Linked DNA regions of Homo sapiens: all the other regions are linked to region 2. The links come from fine-mapping of genetic effects on gene expression. A gene starts in region 2. Each other region holds a variant in brackets. All regions are shown on one strand. Distances are between the middles of the regions. Region 1 overlaps LOC124900374. Region 2 holds the start of MVD (mevalonate diphosphate decarboxylase). Region 3 overlaps IL17C (interleukin 17C).

Region 1 (5,218 bases), 400 kb after region 2:
GGGGGCCTCCGAGTCCTCATCCACAGAAGCCCTCTGTGCCACCAGCAGGGAACAGCCAGCAAAGAGCCTTCACCCTGAAGATCCAGACGGAATTCTTGGTTTCTACAGCTGCTCCCTGCCTCTCCCCACAGCCACGGGAAGGGGAGTTAACCGAGGCAGCCCCCACCCGAGACAGACCTGCACAGGGCCAAGAACTTGCCCTGTGGTAGGGCTGGGGGAGGAGCGGCTGGTGGACTTTCTGTGTCAAAGGCAGGTGTCACTTTCAGCTCATTAATTTCACTTCTCCAGGTTCTCAATCCACCAAAATGAGCTCTTTACAAAGGCCAGGACCTGCCCTTCTAGAGGACAGGCTCATACTTCCCAAAGCTTCAGGACTTCGGGTCCTGTGGCTGCCCATCCGTCAGCAGAACTGGGTGAGGCCAGGTGTGACATCAGACAAGTCCCCCGCCTCTGGCAATTCCTCAGCGGGGGGCATGACCTACTGTGCATTCCAGGGCTGCGGCACATGTACTTACCCCTTAGCCTTGGACCACAAGCCTCCCCCAGCCCAAAATGGAATGGGGACAGCCTCTGCCACAGGGAGGGGCAGGTGGTGCCGTGTGAGGGGCGGTGGCACCCAGGGCTTTTCTCACAAGGAAAAGGAACCTCAAAGTGTTTCTCTCTGCACACTTTGCCTCCCTCAAATGCGGGCTCCTTCCTCTCCCACCCGCATCAGCAGCTGAGGCCCCAGAAGGGCCCACCTGTGTCCCGCCCACCATGCGTGAGATCGCTGATTGCCTCCTGGGATAGTGGCAGCGTGCTCGAGCCTCTCCGGACCGCATCCCAGCTGTTAGAACCAGGAAGCCCCCGTCAGGCACCAAGACCCCCAGACGCTGGCCCGGGCTCCCCATTTTCACTTGATCCTCTCCGCCGTGTTTCTGTCTTCCTGGGGCTGCAGGCGTTTTGGTCATGGCTGCATCACACCAGAGTCTGCGTCCGTGGCCACGCAGCCTCCTCCTTTTCTCCGTGTCTTAAACTTCTTTCTGTTCCCTCTTATCGGGACCTCCTGATGCCATCAGACGCCGCCCCACCATGGTTCAGAACAATCTTTCCATCTCAAGATCCTCAGTTCAATCACATCTGCAGAGACCCTTTTTTTCTGTGTAAAGTAGCATTCACAGGTCCCAGGGATTAGGATCTGATATCTCTGGGGCCAGTACAGATGGGTTTGAGATTTGATCATGGAGAAAAGAAATGACGGCATTTAGCTCTATATCCTAGTCAACACGGAGCCGCGAGCATGATTGAGAAGAACGTCAAAGATCAAGCAGTTTTGTAAAAGAGTAAAGCCCCTCCACTCTCCTAAACCCAGCCAATTTCTCAAAATTTGTGAGAGCGGCGTCCTCCCAGCAGCAAACACAAGGGACACGTGTGTGCACCCAGACCAGCACCTACCACTCTAGACAGTCCCCAGAGCGAGGCTTAGGACTGACGGCCGGAGATGCAACCGTGGCCAGGGGCCCAGAGCTCATTGAAACCTGCTCAGTCCAAGGCCTTAGGCTGAGCCTGACATCGTGTCGTATTGTGGAAACACTCGTTCCCTCATTCAGCCGAATGCTTTTTAAAGCGACTTTTTGGCTGGGCACGGTGGCTCGCGCCTGTCAACCCAGCACTTCGGGAGGCCGAGGTGGGAGGATCATTTGAGGTCAGGAGTGTGAGACCAGCCTGACCAATATGGTAAAACCCTGTCTCTACTAAAATACAAAAAAAAAAAAAAACACTAGCAGGGCGTGGTGGTGTGCGCCTGTAATCCCAGCCACTCAGGAGGCTGAGGCAGGAAAATCACGTGAACCCGGGAGGCGGAGGTTTCAGTGAGCCAAGATCTTACCACTGCACTCCAGCCTGGGTGACAGAGTGAGACTCTGTCTCGAAACAAAAAAACAAAAAAACAAAAAAAAAGTGACTTTTTATCTTTTTATTCTAAAACAGTTTTAGATGTACAGAAAAAATATGTAAATCTGTAAATGTCCGGATGGGGCTTGTGTCCTAGGAGTAAGACATCAGCTCTGCTGCTCAGATGTCCAGGAGGGTCTTCGGCGGAGCCTGCAGCCCCCCACCCCAGGGTCAGGGGTCTCTCCCTGGAGGGAGGGATCAGCGCCTGGACTTTGGGGAGGCCGCTTGGGGGCCACGGTGTGTGGAGACCCTGGGACATTGGTGTGAGTGCAGGTGGGGGTGAGACGCAGAGGAGAGGCATCTTGGGAGGAGAAAGAGCGCGGTGCCTGGGGGTGGCTGTCAGGCTGGGAGATCCTGGGGCTCATAGGGATTCTGGGGTCCCAGGGAACCCCTAAGTTTGGAGGCTGGACAGGCCCCCAGCTGCCGTGGCCCTGGAGAGTTCCCAGAGTATTTCCTGACGAAATGAACAGAAGACCACAGCCTTCTGCAGCGGAGGAGAAGCATGCGGGGCATCCACATCTACAAAGGCCCCAAAGTGGAAAAACCTGTTGTTTTTCCTGAGCAGCCCGGCTGGAAACAACGGCGGTTTTGTTTCGCAGACTCCGCAGAATCTGGCGGGCAGAGGGATGGGGGCGCGGGATGCGGCTGAGGGAAGGAGGGGGCGTCGACCCTTCCTGACCCACCGAGGACACCTCTCTGGCCCGCTTCGGGGGGGCGGGGGGTGGGTCGGCTTGCCCGGGAGGAAATCCCACTGCTTCCCACTCACAAGCCGGTGGGTGGCCGCGAGGCCTGGCCGCACGGCCTCATTCCTGCGACTTTCTTCTGCCTTGTGGCATG[G/C]CTTTTTCTTTTCCCCTAAGGAAAGTTTGCTTAAAGAGAAAGAGACACACATACCATTCTCTGGTCCTTTGAAGGGTTGAGCTAAGCTGGGTCAAGAGGAAATGGCGTGCTCAGTCACCCCTGAGAACAAAATACTCCCACGAGTTTTGGTGAGGCACGTGTGTCTTCTCAGCTCAAATCTCTACCACCCCACGGACAAGGCAGTTCAAATCCAGGCTCACCACCACCTGCTGTGTGGGTTGGGCAAGCTGTGGACATCTCTGAGCTTCGGTTCCTTGAGTGTAGAATAAGCATAACATCTGTGTAGAAGGATTACTGTGAGGGATGCTGTTTGTACACCTCCCACTGCCAGAACGCAAGTTCCATGAGGCTGGGGCTGCGTTTTCTGCATTGCTGCAAACCCTCTAAAATGTCATCCGAGTTCATCAGAACCACAAGGACCACCACCACCATCATCGTCACCCTCACCCAAACGCTCAAATCTCCAAGTGTCTAAACTCATGGGTCTGTGCCAAATGCTACCATGCTTAGCGTCCCCAAAGCTAGAGTCACCACGAAGAAGGTTCTCTCCAATATTACTGCCTTAAACTTCTAGCCCAGAACCCTCAATAAACTTGGGCACCTTTTGTGCTGGGCCTCCTTTAGCCGATGGCTCCAGGGCCCCTATCCCTGGCAGAGAAGGCCATCGGCAATGTAGGGGGTAAGCTGGGGGGGTGGGGGGGTGAGCCATTCAGCTCTGCTGAGCTGTGCTGTCTCATGGGAGTGGCCCCTCCCTTCCAGGAACCTTCCTTGAGCAAAATCCTCAAATGTCAGCAGGTGGTCTTGAAATCCCTTCCTCTGTGACACAGTAATTCAGAGATCTTAATGATGTTTCCCCAAAGTTAGAACATAGTGGCTGTTCCCTAACACACACACACACACACCCTTTCTCTGTTATGTGTCTCCCATAATTTTTCTGTTTCTCAATTATGTTTCTTTCTCTGTTATGTTTGTCTATTATTTCTTCTTTGAATTGTCAATGCCTGCTTCTACTGGTCTGTACCAGGTTCTATTGCAATCACCTCTGGTTGGGGCAAAACTGCACATTTAGCTATTTTATAAGTGTTTCCTTGTACTTCATAGAGGGCATCAGAGCCCTTGCAGCATGTGGGCACACGGGTCAGAGGATGCAGACTGAAAGGAGCTTCTGGACGCACATTCTATTCTCATTCTGGAGCCAAGGAAGTGAGAGGGGAAAAGGGAAGTGATTCTAAGCCTTTTGTGGGGTCTCATACATAACTCAGTTTCCACAAAGCTGTGCCCCAGCTCAGCCCTATGGATAGAAGCATGGTCTGGGGTTCCTTTGCTGACCAGGGTGTGTGCTTTGTCCAAGTTACTGACCTTCCCAAACCTCATCAATGCACATAAAAAGAGCACTTGCAAACAATGAATCTAGACATGGACCTTCACAAAGAAATAACTCAAAATGGATCCCAGGCCTAAATGAAAAATGAAAAACTATAAAACTCCTAGAAGATAACATAAAAGAAGATCTAGATGACCTAGGGTTTGGCAATGACTTTTTAGATCCAGCACCAAAGGCAGGATCCAGGAAAGAAATAATTGATAAGCTGGACTTCATTAAAACGAAAACTTCTGCTCTGTGAAAGATGCTGCCAAAAAATGAAAAGACAAGCCACAGACTGGGAGAAAATATTTTTGATGGAAATATCTGAGAAGAGAGGCTTGTTATCCAAAATATACAAAGAATTCCTAAAACTCAATAATTTGAAAATAAACAACCCAATTTAAAAAGTGGGCCAAAGATCTTAAATGACGCCTCACCAAAGAAGATACACAGATGGCAAATAAGCATATGAAAAGATGCTCCCGGCTGGGCACGGTGGCTCACGCCCGTAATCCCAGCACTTTGGGATGCCAAGGCAGGCAGATCACCTGAGGTCAGGAGTTGGAGACCAGCCTGGCCAACATGGCAAAACCCTTTCTCTACTAAAAATGCAAAAAAAAAAAAAAAAAAAATTAGTGGGGTATGGTGGTGCATGCCTGTAATCCCAGCTACTCAGGAGGCTGAGGCAGGAGAATCACTTGAACCTAGGAGGCGGAGGTTGCAGTGGGCTGAGATTGTGCCACTGCAGTCCAGCATGGGCAACAAGAGTGAAACTCCATCAACGAAAGAAAAGAAAAGAAAGAAAGAAAGAAAGAAAGAAAGAAAGAAAGAAAGAAAGAAAGAAAGAAAGAAGGAAAGAAAAGAAAAGAAAAGAAAGAAAGGAAGGAAAAAGGAAGGAAGAAAGGAAGGAAGGAAGAAAGAAAAGAGGCTCCTCACCACACATGTCATCAGGGAAATGCAAATTAAAATAAGCATAAGATATCGCCTCTCACCTAACAGCGTGGCTAAAACCCAGAACTCTGACAACACCAAATGCTGGGCGAGGATGTGGAGCAACAGGAA
Region 2 (5,218 bases):
TCTAAACAAAAATAAATTGTTTTTTTTTCTACTGGACTTAAACAATCTGCCCTCCTTGGCCTCCCAAAGCACCAAGCCTGTGTCTTCTTTTTCATCACAGCCGTGGCAGAAGGAAGGAGGTGACTGGAAGCCCCACTCTCTCTGAGTAGCTGAGGGAATACACCCTGACTATAGGCCGAGACAGTCCACATCAGCTCTTCAATAGGATTTAGTGGCTTTGCATAAAATGGAAAAGCAGCTGTGATTGCAAGAGAAATTAAAAATAACCACCATCTGAAATGCAAATTGAAAACAGTGAGACAACACATGTCACTCTGGCAGGTGACCCACTGTGCTGGTGAAGGCATGCAGGCACTCTCAGACTTCCGCAGAGAGACCTGAGTAATCAATTGACTTCCACAAAGGGCGACTTGCCAACAGCTATCAAAAGTACTCAGGCACATCCCACTTGGCCCAGCAATTCCACTTCCAGGAATTTCTCCTGCAGAAATACATGTGCACAAACAACGTAGGAAAGCACTGTTTATAGTAACAACCCAACTAGGACAGACCAGGTATATTTAGACAACAAACAAGGAAGCTTTTTACTAAATTGGGATGATCTCTAAGAAGAAGGTACGTAGAAAAAGCAAGGTGGGAGAACACGCTATGTGCTTGTACTATGCACGTCAATGAAAAAATACACAAAGAATTGACAGGCCAGGTGGAGTGGCTCACACCTAATCCCAGTACTTTGGAAGACTGAGATGGGAGGGTTCCCTGAGGCCAGGACTTCAAATCAGCCTGGGCAACATAGCAAGACCCCCCCACATCTCTACAAAAAAATTAAGAAAAAAATTAGCCGGGCATGGTGGTGTGTACCTGTAGTCCCAACTACTGAGGAAACTGAGGTGGGAAGATCCCTTGAGCCAGGAGGTCGAGGCTGCATGGAGCTTTGATCGTACCACTGCCCTCCAGCCTGAGCAACAGAGTGAGAAAAAAAACAGACTTTTTTTCTATTTCTGGAAAAAAATAAAGAATTTATAAGTATGATGGTTCTGGTAATAGAAGTAGGTGGCTAGGCAGAGTGGACACTTCACACTGCATACTCCCCTATTTTCCGAAATCTGAGTTTTTTTTTTTTTTTTTTTTTTTTTTGAGATGGAGTCTTGCTCTGTCACCCTGGCTGGAGTACAGCAGCACCATCTCGGCTCACTGCAACTTCCGCCTCCTGAGTTCAAGCAATTGTCCTGCCTCAGCCTCCCCAGTAGCTGGGATTACAGGCGTGCACCACACGCCCACCTAATTATTGTATTTTTAGTAGAGACAGGGTTTCACCATGTTGGCCAGGCTGGTCTCAAACTCCTGACCTCGTGATCCGCCCACCTCGGCCTCCCAAAGTGCTGGGATTACAGGTGTGAGCCACCATGCCCAGCCAATCTGAGCTATTTAAAAACTAAAGGTAAAATTTTAAAAGGGGAAGGGGAAAATGGGAAGTCATTGTTTTAAGGGGACAGAGTTTCTGTTTGGGGTGAGAAAACTCTAGAAATAGTGGGGGCGTGGCACATGATTGGAATGAATGGCAGGGAACGGCACGCTTAAATGTTCCTGTACGTTTCACAGGAGAAGTCAATGCACACACAAGCGCCGCAACCCAGTCCAAGGCTTTGCTCCTACAGGGCCTTACAGGGGGTATTTGAGACGCCCACCTTAATGCAGGTTGGACCCAGCTCCGGGCTGCGGGGCTTCCCCGCCCCGGGGTCTTTCGTGTGAGCCCCGTGGCGGGGGATCCTGGCCCAGGACATGGCGCGGAGAAGGCTGTGGGCGGCGGGACAGGGTGCCTTCGGCTGCCGGGTTAAGAGTGGATCCCGGGATACATCCTCCAGCGCCTGCCCTCGGGCCTGTGTGCACCCCCATACCCAGCGGGGCCGTCCAAGAGCTTCAAGGAGGGCACAGCGCGACCCGCCCTCCCCTCAGCCCCGCACACCGTCCCACGGCCCCGCACAGCCTCCCTCCCACACAGCGCCCCACGGCACCCGCACAGCGCCCCACGGCCCCTTCATGGTCCCCGCACAGCGCCTCACAACCCGCACACAGCGCCTCACGGACCCTTTACGGCCCCCGCAGAGTCTCCCACACGGCGCCCCACACAGAGCCTCACGGACCCCGCACAGCGCCTCAAGGTCTCCGCACAGCCCCCAGCACAGCGCCTCACACAGCCCTTCGCACAGCCCCCCGCACAGCTCCTCACGGGCCCCACACAGCTGCCGCACAGCCCCGCACAAGCCCGCACAGCACCAGCAGACAGGTAGCCCCCACAGGCAACAGCGCCCACCTCGCCGCGCCCAGACCCCGGATCGCCGACGCGGACGCCAGGCGCCTGGGCACACGGCGCCTGCGCAGACAACACCACGCCCCAGGCCTGGCGAGCGCACCCTGCGGGTGGGGCGGACCTACGTCAGCAACCCATCGTCCGATCCCGTCCATTGGCTGAGAGGTAATGCGTGCGCCCGACTCGCCGCTGATTGGTCGGCGCGCGAGCAGCCGGGCTCGCACGGGCCAATCCTGTGGTAGCGCGTGAGGAGGCAGAGGCCTCTGGGGTGGGATCGCGGGCCGTAAGTGGCTGTGGAGCTGGGGTCACTGCGCGGTGGGACCATGGCCTCGGAGAAGCCGCTGGCGGCAGTCACTTGTACAGCGCCGGTCAACATCGCGGTCATCAAGTACTGTGAGTGCCGCGGGCCGGCCTGGGACGGGGATGGCCGGGAGCGAGGCCGGGTACGCGGGGGTCGCGCGCTGATTCGGCGGCGCGCTCCGTCCTGCCCTCCCAGGGCCTCGACAGACGGGGAAACTGAGGCTCAGGGAGGGGCGCGGCGGTGGTCGGGCGGGGCCGCGCGCTCCTTCGCGTGACAAGCTCGGCGCCACCCGTTCCCCCGCGACGGCTGCCGCCCCTGCAGGGTCGCCCGGCGCCTGCCCATTAGCGATTACCGAACTATCGAAATCATCAATCATCGATTCCCATGAATCGTAAGAATCCGCCGTGGTGGTGCGCGTTTGTGGCTCCAGCTACTCGGGAGGCTGAGGCGGGAGGATGGCCAGAGCCCGGGAGGTCGAGGCTGCAGTGAGCGGAAATCGCGCCACTGCTCCCCCAGCCCGAGACCCTGTGTCCCTCCCTCGCCCCGTTTCTCCCAGCGGTAACCTCCAAGGAGCGGTAATGGGGGGCCCGCAGGCCCACATCCGTGCCGGGGAGGCCGGTCCGCACCTGTGCGTTCACAGCCCCGCCCCTCCCCTCGCGCCGGGGTTACCTGGCCGCCACTGACCACTCATTTCTGTAACGTCATTTCAAAATGTTCTGAAACTGGAATCGCAGTTATGTGGCCCACCCAGTATCTTTTGAGTTTGGCTTATTTCATTCAGCATAGAATGTGGACGTGCCCCGGGATTGTATCAGTGCTTTGCCCCTCTGTTGCTGAGCCAGTCCGTGGAATCCATGGACCACCCTCTCTCTAGCCAAGGCCTCACCCCGCAAAGAGCATCTAACGTTTTCTTTCTTTCTTTCTTTTCTTTCCAGAAGCCGCCACCACGACTGGCTAATTTTTTTGTGTTTCCCTTACCAATAAAGCTGCCATAAAATGTTGTATACAGGTTTTTGTGTGAACATACATTTCCATTCTTCTGGGATAAATGCCCAGGAGTGCGGTTGCTGGGTCAGATGGTAGATATATATATATGCCTCTCTGTCTCTCTCTCTCTTTCTATGTATATATGTATGTTTGTGTGTGTGTATATATATATACACCTGTATAGATATATGTGTGTGTATATGTATACACCTATATAGATGTATGTGTGTGTATATATACATATATATATTATATATATACTTTTTTTTTTTAAAGAAACTGTCTAATTGTTTTTCAGAGTGGCTGGGCCATTTTGCATCCCTACGGTGATGCAGATTTTCCGCATCCTCACCAGCATTTGGTGGAGTTGCTGTTTTTCATTTTAGCCGCGTCCTGGTAGGGATGTGCTGGCAGGGTGCTGTGGTCCTCATTCGCGTTTCCCTGTTGGCCAGTGACGTGGAGCATCTTTCTTTGTGCTTATTTGCCATCTGTGGGTTTTCTTGGTGAAATCTCTCTTCATATTCTGTGTCCACGCTCGAACTGGATGGTTTGCTTTTTTACTATAAGTTTGGAGAGTTCATTACACATTCTAGGCTGGGCACGCTGGCTCAAGCCTGTAATCCCAGCACTTGGGGAGGCTGAGGTGGGCGGATCACCTGAGGTCAGGAGTTTGAGACCAGCTTGGCCAACATGGTGAAACCCCCGTCTCTACTGAAAAAAAATAAAATATGTATTCTAGATATTAGTCTCCTGTTGGACATGTGGTTTGCAGGTATTGTCTCCCAAACTAGCTAATCTTTTTGTCCTCTTAACAAAGAGCCAGTTTTTCATTTTAAAGAAGTTCAGTGTATCAATGTTGATGTCAAGTCTAAGACCTCTTTGCTTAGCCCTATGTCCTGAAGATTGTCTGCTTTCCTCCAAGTTGTACAGGATTGCCTTTTATATTTAAGTCTGTGATCCAAGGTTGTCCAGTTAGCCCAGAAAGGCTATCCTTCCTCTATTGAATTGCTTTTGCACTTTTGTAAAAAAAAAAATCAGCTGGGCATGTTTGTGTGGGTCTATTTCTGGATTTTCTCTTCTGCTATTTTTTTTTTTTTTTTTTTTTTTTTTGAGACAGAGTCTTGCTCTGTCACCCAGGCTGGAGTGCAGTGGCACAATCTTGGCTCACTGTAACCTCCGCCTCCTGGGTTCAAGCAATTCTCCTGCCTTAGTCTTCTGAGTATTTGGGACTACATGCACGTGCCACCACACTTGGCTAATTTTTGTATTTTTAGTAGAGATGGGGTTTCACCGTGTTAGCCAGGCTGGTCTGAAGCTCCTGACCTCGTGATCTGCCCACCTCAGCCTCCCAAAGTGCTGGGATTACAGGTGTGAGCCACCGCGTCTGGCCTTTTATTTTTATTTTTTATATTTATTTATTTTATATTTATATTTTTATATTTATTTGTATTACTTTTATATTTATTTTTTTGAGACAGACTGTCACTGCGACACCCAGGCTGGAGTGCAATGGCGTGATCTCGGCTCACTGCAACCTCCGCTTCCCGGGTTCAACCGATTCTCCTGCCTCAGCCTCTCGAGTAGCTGGGACTACAGGTGTGCGCCACCACACCTGGCTA
Region 3 (5,179 bases), 21 kb after region 2:
ATTGCTGGGTCAGGCATCAGCCTCTGCACCGTTCACCCTGCCGGGCTCAGCTGCTCCTCAGCAGACAACCCACCACCAGCCATGTGGCCCCATCTCTCCCACCATGCACTAGGCTTTCTCCCACGCTTGCCAGTTTCACAGCACGAGCTGGCCGTGTGGAGCTTGGACTCGCCCTTCTCTGACTGTGGATTTGAGCTGTTGGAGTTTCTTCTCCCTTGAGTTGCCTGTTCAAATCCTTTGCCCATTTTTCTATTGTGGTTTTTGTATTTTTCTTTTTCTTCTTTTTTTTTTGAGATGGAGTCTCGCGCCATCGCCCAGGCTGGAGTGCAGTGGCGTGATCTCGGCTCACTGCAACCTTCGCCTCCTGGGTTCAAGCAATTCTCCTGCCTCAGCCTCCCGAGTAGCTGGGACTACAGGCACGTGCCACCATGCCTGGCTAATTTTTGGTATTTTTAGTAGAGACGGGGTTTCACCGCGTTAGCCAGGATGGTCTGGATCTCCTTGACCTTGTGATCCGCCCGCCTCGGCCTCCCAAAGTGCTGGGATTACAGGCGTGAGCCACCGCGCCCGGCCTGATTGTCTTTTTCTTAAGTTGCAGGAAGTCCACATATATTTTAGCTATTTAGCCTTTGTAACCTTTAAACACTGGGGATGCCTTCATGCTTTCTGGTGAGGGTCTGTTAACTTGGCGCGTGGAGTCCTTCACTGCACGGAAGAGCAGAGGTTTCCCTGTTCACCTGCTCTATGGTCTGTGCTTTGTGAAAACACCTTTCCCTGGCCCTGGGTCCTGCCTTCACGTTCCTGCCTTTTCTTCTATCAGCCTTCTAGTTTTGCTTTTCAGAATGGAATGTTTCCGTTTTGGAGTCAGGTAGGATCACACATGTCCAGTTTCTCTTTCTGTTCATGACGTATATGATGTGACATATTTTTCCACCAGATATTATGGGATAGAAGATGAAAAGCACACACTCCCAGGTCCACTTGACCTGTTGCAGTGGAACCTCCGGGCATGGGCCCAGGAGTCTGTATTTTTAGTAAAAGCCAGTGGAATCCCGTGGTCTTCAAGCTCTCCCCCCACCACCCCCATGTGCAGAAATGCCTGGGCACCCTTGGGGGGCTGCCGGCCAGCGTGGGTGAATGGCGCCCACCAGACGGAGCAGGGCCTGCTACTCTCCTGGGCCACCCCTCCTGCTGGACCTCGGGCCTGCCTCCCTGCCTTCCCTGCCCTTGGCACCTTGAGAGGAGAATTTGAGTACTAGAATTTGCATCTGGGAGTGTCCACCACGGGATCTTCCAGAAGCCCAGGGGTTCGGGCCCCACTCCTGGCATGAAGAAATAGCTTGGGCTGGTGTCAGGCCGACCCAGGTCCTGGCTGTGTGGCCTCGGGCGCGTCACTTAACCTCTCTGAGTGGCAGTCACACCATCCTGCGTGGGATTCAGACTTGAGCCTGTCCCAGGGCCCCTAGCGGGGTGGGCCTCCGGGGAGGGAGGGAGGGAGGGAGGGCGGGCGCTGGGGCGCGGCTCAACCCTTCAGTGCCCCGCAGGCGGCTGTGCGTGGCGAGCAGTGGACGCCCATCGAGCCCAAGCCCCGGGAGCGGCCGCAGATCGGAGGCACCATCAAGCAGCCGCCCAGCAACCCCCCGCCGCGGCCCCCGGCCGAGGCCCGCAAGAAGCCCAGCGAGGAGGAGGCTGCGGTGGCGGCGGGGGGACCCCCGGGAGGTCCCCAGGTCAACCCCATCCCGGTGACCGACGAGGTCGTGTGACCTCGCCCCGGACCTGCCCTCCCGCCAGGTGCACCCACCTGCAATAAATGCAGCGAAGCCGGGAGCGCGTGAGCCTCTGCCTGGGGCCGGTGGGCGGGGCTGGGGTAGCGATGGTTCCCGAGGCCTGGGCAGGCACCCCGTTTCCTGCCAGCCGGGCCGCATTCCAGTTTCATTAACATCAGCATCGCCTTCCTTCTCAGCAGCACACGAAATCCCGGGTACCGTATATTCCACGAAATATAGTACCTGGATTCCAGGTGTGTGCCTCCCTAGAAAGGTCCTCCCGGGCCTGGAGGAGGCAGCAGAGTCCTCCCTTGACAGCTCCTGCAGGCCCTGCAGGCCCTCCACACCTAACGCCTCCCTAAGGGGCTTGGATTCCAGAGGAGGCCGCTGGCGTTAAGTGAAAAGGGAACAGGGTCGGAGCCACGTGGTGAGCCTCTACCCTGCGCCTCTTTTCCGTAGAAGCTGGGGTGAAGCTGGTGGCGGATGTGGCCTTGTTTGCCCCCACACTGATGCTGGGGGGCCCCCCAGCTGCCCAGGACGCTCAGGCCAAGTTGCAGGGGCTTCTGGCCACCCCTTCCCCTCACTTGTGCGGAGGCTGTGGCTGGCTGCACACACACCTGCCCACAGGTCCTCACCACCACCCCAGCCCGGTGCCCCCAAAGCTTTGCCCGGCGTCAGCCACGTCCCCCACCTTTGGGCTCTCGCCAAGGCACCCACTCCCCTGAGGCCGGAGAAGCCCTTGCCTGCTGCTTGTCCACCTGCTCTCCCAGCAACTCACACTTCAGAGCCAGGGTCCTCTGTTCCTGGGGGCCTTCAGAATCCACCCCCCACCAGCCAACACTCGGCACCATACAGACGTCTCAATCCAGCCTCATCTCAGCCGTCCCCCCAGGTCACCAAGCTTCAGGTCACCCTTGAAACCCCCACACCCCACATCCAATCCTGGCCCAAATCCAGACCCCAGCTACATGGGCCATCCCCACCCAGGCCACCTGCCGCCTCCC[G/A]CTCTGCCCTCATCCCCTGAAACCATCCTGATGCTGCCATTGAAACCCAAAGCCTCACCCCAGTGCCTCCGGCTCAGAATCCGCAGGCTCAGAACCCACAGGCTCAGCTACCTCCAGTGACAGCCACAAGCTTCTGATGGCCCCAGGGCAGACATGATCTGCACCCCCAGCGCCCTGCCCTGCCCCTGCGGTCCCCCTCTCACCTGGCATCAGCCACGCAGGCCACTCTCTGACCCTTGGACACACGCAGCATGTGTCTTCTCAGGGCCTTTGCATGGGCTCTTCCTGCTGCCTGGAGCTGTTCCCTGCATGGCTGCCTGGCTCCTTCCTCCTCCCCTTCAGGTCTTCGAGGCCTCCCTGACCCTCTGCTTAGAACTGCAGCCCCTTGGCCGGGCGCGGTGGCTCACGCCTGTAATCCCAGCACTTTGGGAGGCCGAGGCGGGCAGATCATGAGGTCAGGAGATCGAGACCATCCTGGCTAACACGGTGAAACCCCGTCTCTACTAAAAATACAAAAAATTAGCCGGGCGTGGTGGCGGGCGCCTGTAGTCCCAGCTACTCAGGAGGCTGAGGCAGGAGAATGGTGTGAACCCGGGAGGCGGAGCTTGCAGTGAGCCGAGATCGCACCATTGCACTCCAGCCTGGGCCAGAGCGAGACTCCTCAAAAAAAAAAAAAAGAACTGCAGCCCCTCCCCCAGAGCCTCTGTCCTGGACTCACTCACAGACTACACACCACTTGTTTCATTAGTCACCGTGGAGGCAGGAAGGGTTTTCACCATTTTGTTCTCGGCCTGTTCCCAGTGCCAGGTGCTTAGTAGAAACTCATATGGCTGGGTGCGGTGGCTCACGCCTGTAATCCCAGCACTCTGGGAGGCCGAGGTGGGAGGATCACTTGAGCTCAGGAGTTCGAGACCAACCTGGCCAACATGGCGAAACCCCGCCTCCACTAAAAATACAAATATGAGTTGGGTGTGGTGGTGCACGCCTGTACTGGGAAGCTGAGCTGGGAGGATCGCTTGAACTCAGAAGGTGGGGGTGGCAGTGAGCTGAAGTCATACCACACTGCACTCCAGCCTGGGCAACAGAGCGAGACCCTTTTTCAAGAAAGAAAAGAAACTCAATAAATGTGTTGAATGAAAATTCCATCTCCTGGACAAGGGCCACCACCTCCAGGAAGTCTTCCCTGAGGCCTCTTGCTTTGGGAGTCTGAGTGGAGTCCTTGTTCTTCTGTGCAGCACCCCCACCCCCATCTCCAGGCACCTGGACGCAGTAGGTGGGTGAGCCAGGGGGCCAGGCAGGGGAGGGGCTAACAACTGCCCAGCAGCCCCATGGCAATGTCAGCCCTTGGGGCCGGGGGCCTAGAGACTGAGACCCTGAGACTGTCACAGGCCTGGGCCCCCTTTCCACGACTGGGGCTGCTCCCCCCGGGGCCCCTTAACTAAAATCTCCAACAGAGCCTGGGTCCCGAAGCGTGGCTAGTTCACCATCAGGGAGGGCGCTTGGCCTTGGATGTTGATCCGAACCACGAAGGCTGGGGGCCCTGCCTTGAGCCGACAGCCCTGCAGTTCATCCTCAGAGACTTGCCTTGGGGGCCGAGAGGGTGCCCCTAGGCGCTCACATCATTACAAAGCATAGGGCTCAAGGCACTGCTTGAGGAAGGAGGCTGGTTCCTGTTCCCAGGGGTGTCCTCAGGGGAGACACTGTGTGGGCAGAGCAGGGACACCTGTGACCCCCCCGTGCTACAGCTCAGTCCCACCTGCATGCACTGCTCGCGGCTGCGTAGACCTTTCTGGAAGGACACCCCAGAATTGGGTCCATGGCTGGCCTGGACCAGGGCTGAACGGGAGAATGTCGCATTGAATGTTGGCCTCTGGGGATGTGTTCATCAGTTTAATAATACACGTACACTTAAATAATTGTTTAAGAAACAGGGGTACTTCCAAGGAGGTTGGGAAGAGGCAGCCTGCGGGGGCCTGAGGCCAGTGATAGGGTAAGGGAAGCCGGGAGCAGGACAGGGAGCCAAGGTACAGGCAGCCGTGTGACACCTTTTCTGCAGCTTTAAGGGCTGGAAGAGGTGCTGAGCTCCTTCTACCCCCAACTACTGAGGCTGGAGATGAGGAGAACAGTGGGGGGCTGTCCTCCAGACACGGGGAATGCCCAGACCCCAAGGGTAGTGTTGGGGGAGGCATATAAATAACAATAAATACACATAAATAGGGGGTGCCCTCTGGGGAGCACACGTGTCCAGTCTAGGGGCCCCACGGCCTCGGCGGTCACACTGAACGGGGCAGCACGCAGGTGCAGCCGACGGGGACGTGGATGAACTCGGTGTGGAAGGCAAAGGCCCCAGGTGTGGGGAGCCCCGAGCCGTCGCGGGAGCAGGGCCGGCGGCGCAGCACCAGCAGGCTC

The links. PIP is the estimated chance that this variant, and not a neighbour inherited with it, causes the effect. A credible set is the group of variants that fine-mapping cannot tell apart.
Region 1: its variant is the best candidate, but not a certain one, in a credible set for the expression of MVD in neutrophils (BLUEPRINT, PIP 0.75).
Region 3: its variant is the best candidate, but not a certain one, in a credible set for the expression of MVD in whole blood (INTERVAL, PIP 0.68).

Annotation. Positions count from the first base shown.
Region 1 is chr16:88,256,686-88,261,903 of GRCh38, reverse strand. LOC124900374 reads left to right here. Exons shown (of 2, transcript XM_047435026.1): 2 at 1-1,757. It overlaps LOC107984862 (a long non-coding RNA gene), which reads left to right. Exons shown (of 3, transcript NR_171663.1): 3 at 1-1,350. It also overlaps a transcript of ZNF469 not described here. Among named protein-coding and RNA genes, the nearest start is that of LINC02182, 65 kb to the right of the region's middle. RefSeq lists enhancers at 416-1,281, 2,452-3,198. The variant G/C (reference allele first, on the strand shown) is at 2,770.
Region 2 is chr16:88,660,497-88,665,714 of GRCh38, reverse strand. It overlaps MVD (mevalonate diphosphate decarboxylase), which reads left to right and starts at 2,624. Exons shown (of 10, transcript NM_002461.3): 1 at 2,624-2,704. The coding sequence starts at 2,635. SNAI3-AS1 (SNAI3 antisense RNA 1) reads right to left here and starts at 2,342. Exons shown (of 4, transcript NR_024399.1): 1 at 2,315-2,342. RefSeq lists silencers at 1,960-2,119, 2,460-2,879 and an enhancer at 2,330-2,379.
Region 3 is chr16:88,639,937-88,645,115 of GRCh38, reverse strand. It overlaps IL17C (interleukin 17C), which reads right to left. Exons shown (of 3, transcript NM_013278.4): 3 at 4,648-5,179. The coding sequence ends at 5,044. It overlaps CYBA (cytochrome b-245 alpha chain), which reads left to right. Exons shown (of 6, transcript NM_000101.4): 6 at 1,545-1,827. The coding sequence ends at 1,763. Among named protein-coding and RNA genes, the nearest start is that of IL17C, 4.0 kb to the right of the region's middle. RefSeq lists an enhancer at 3,672-4,499. The variant G/A (reference allele first, on the strand shown) is at 2,771.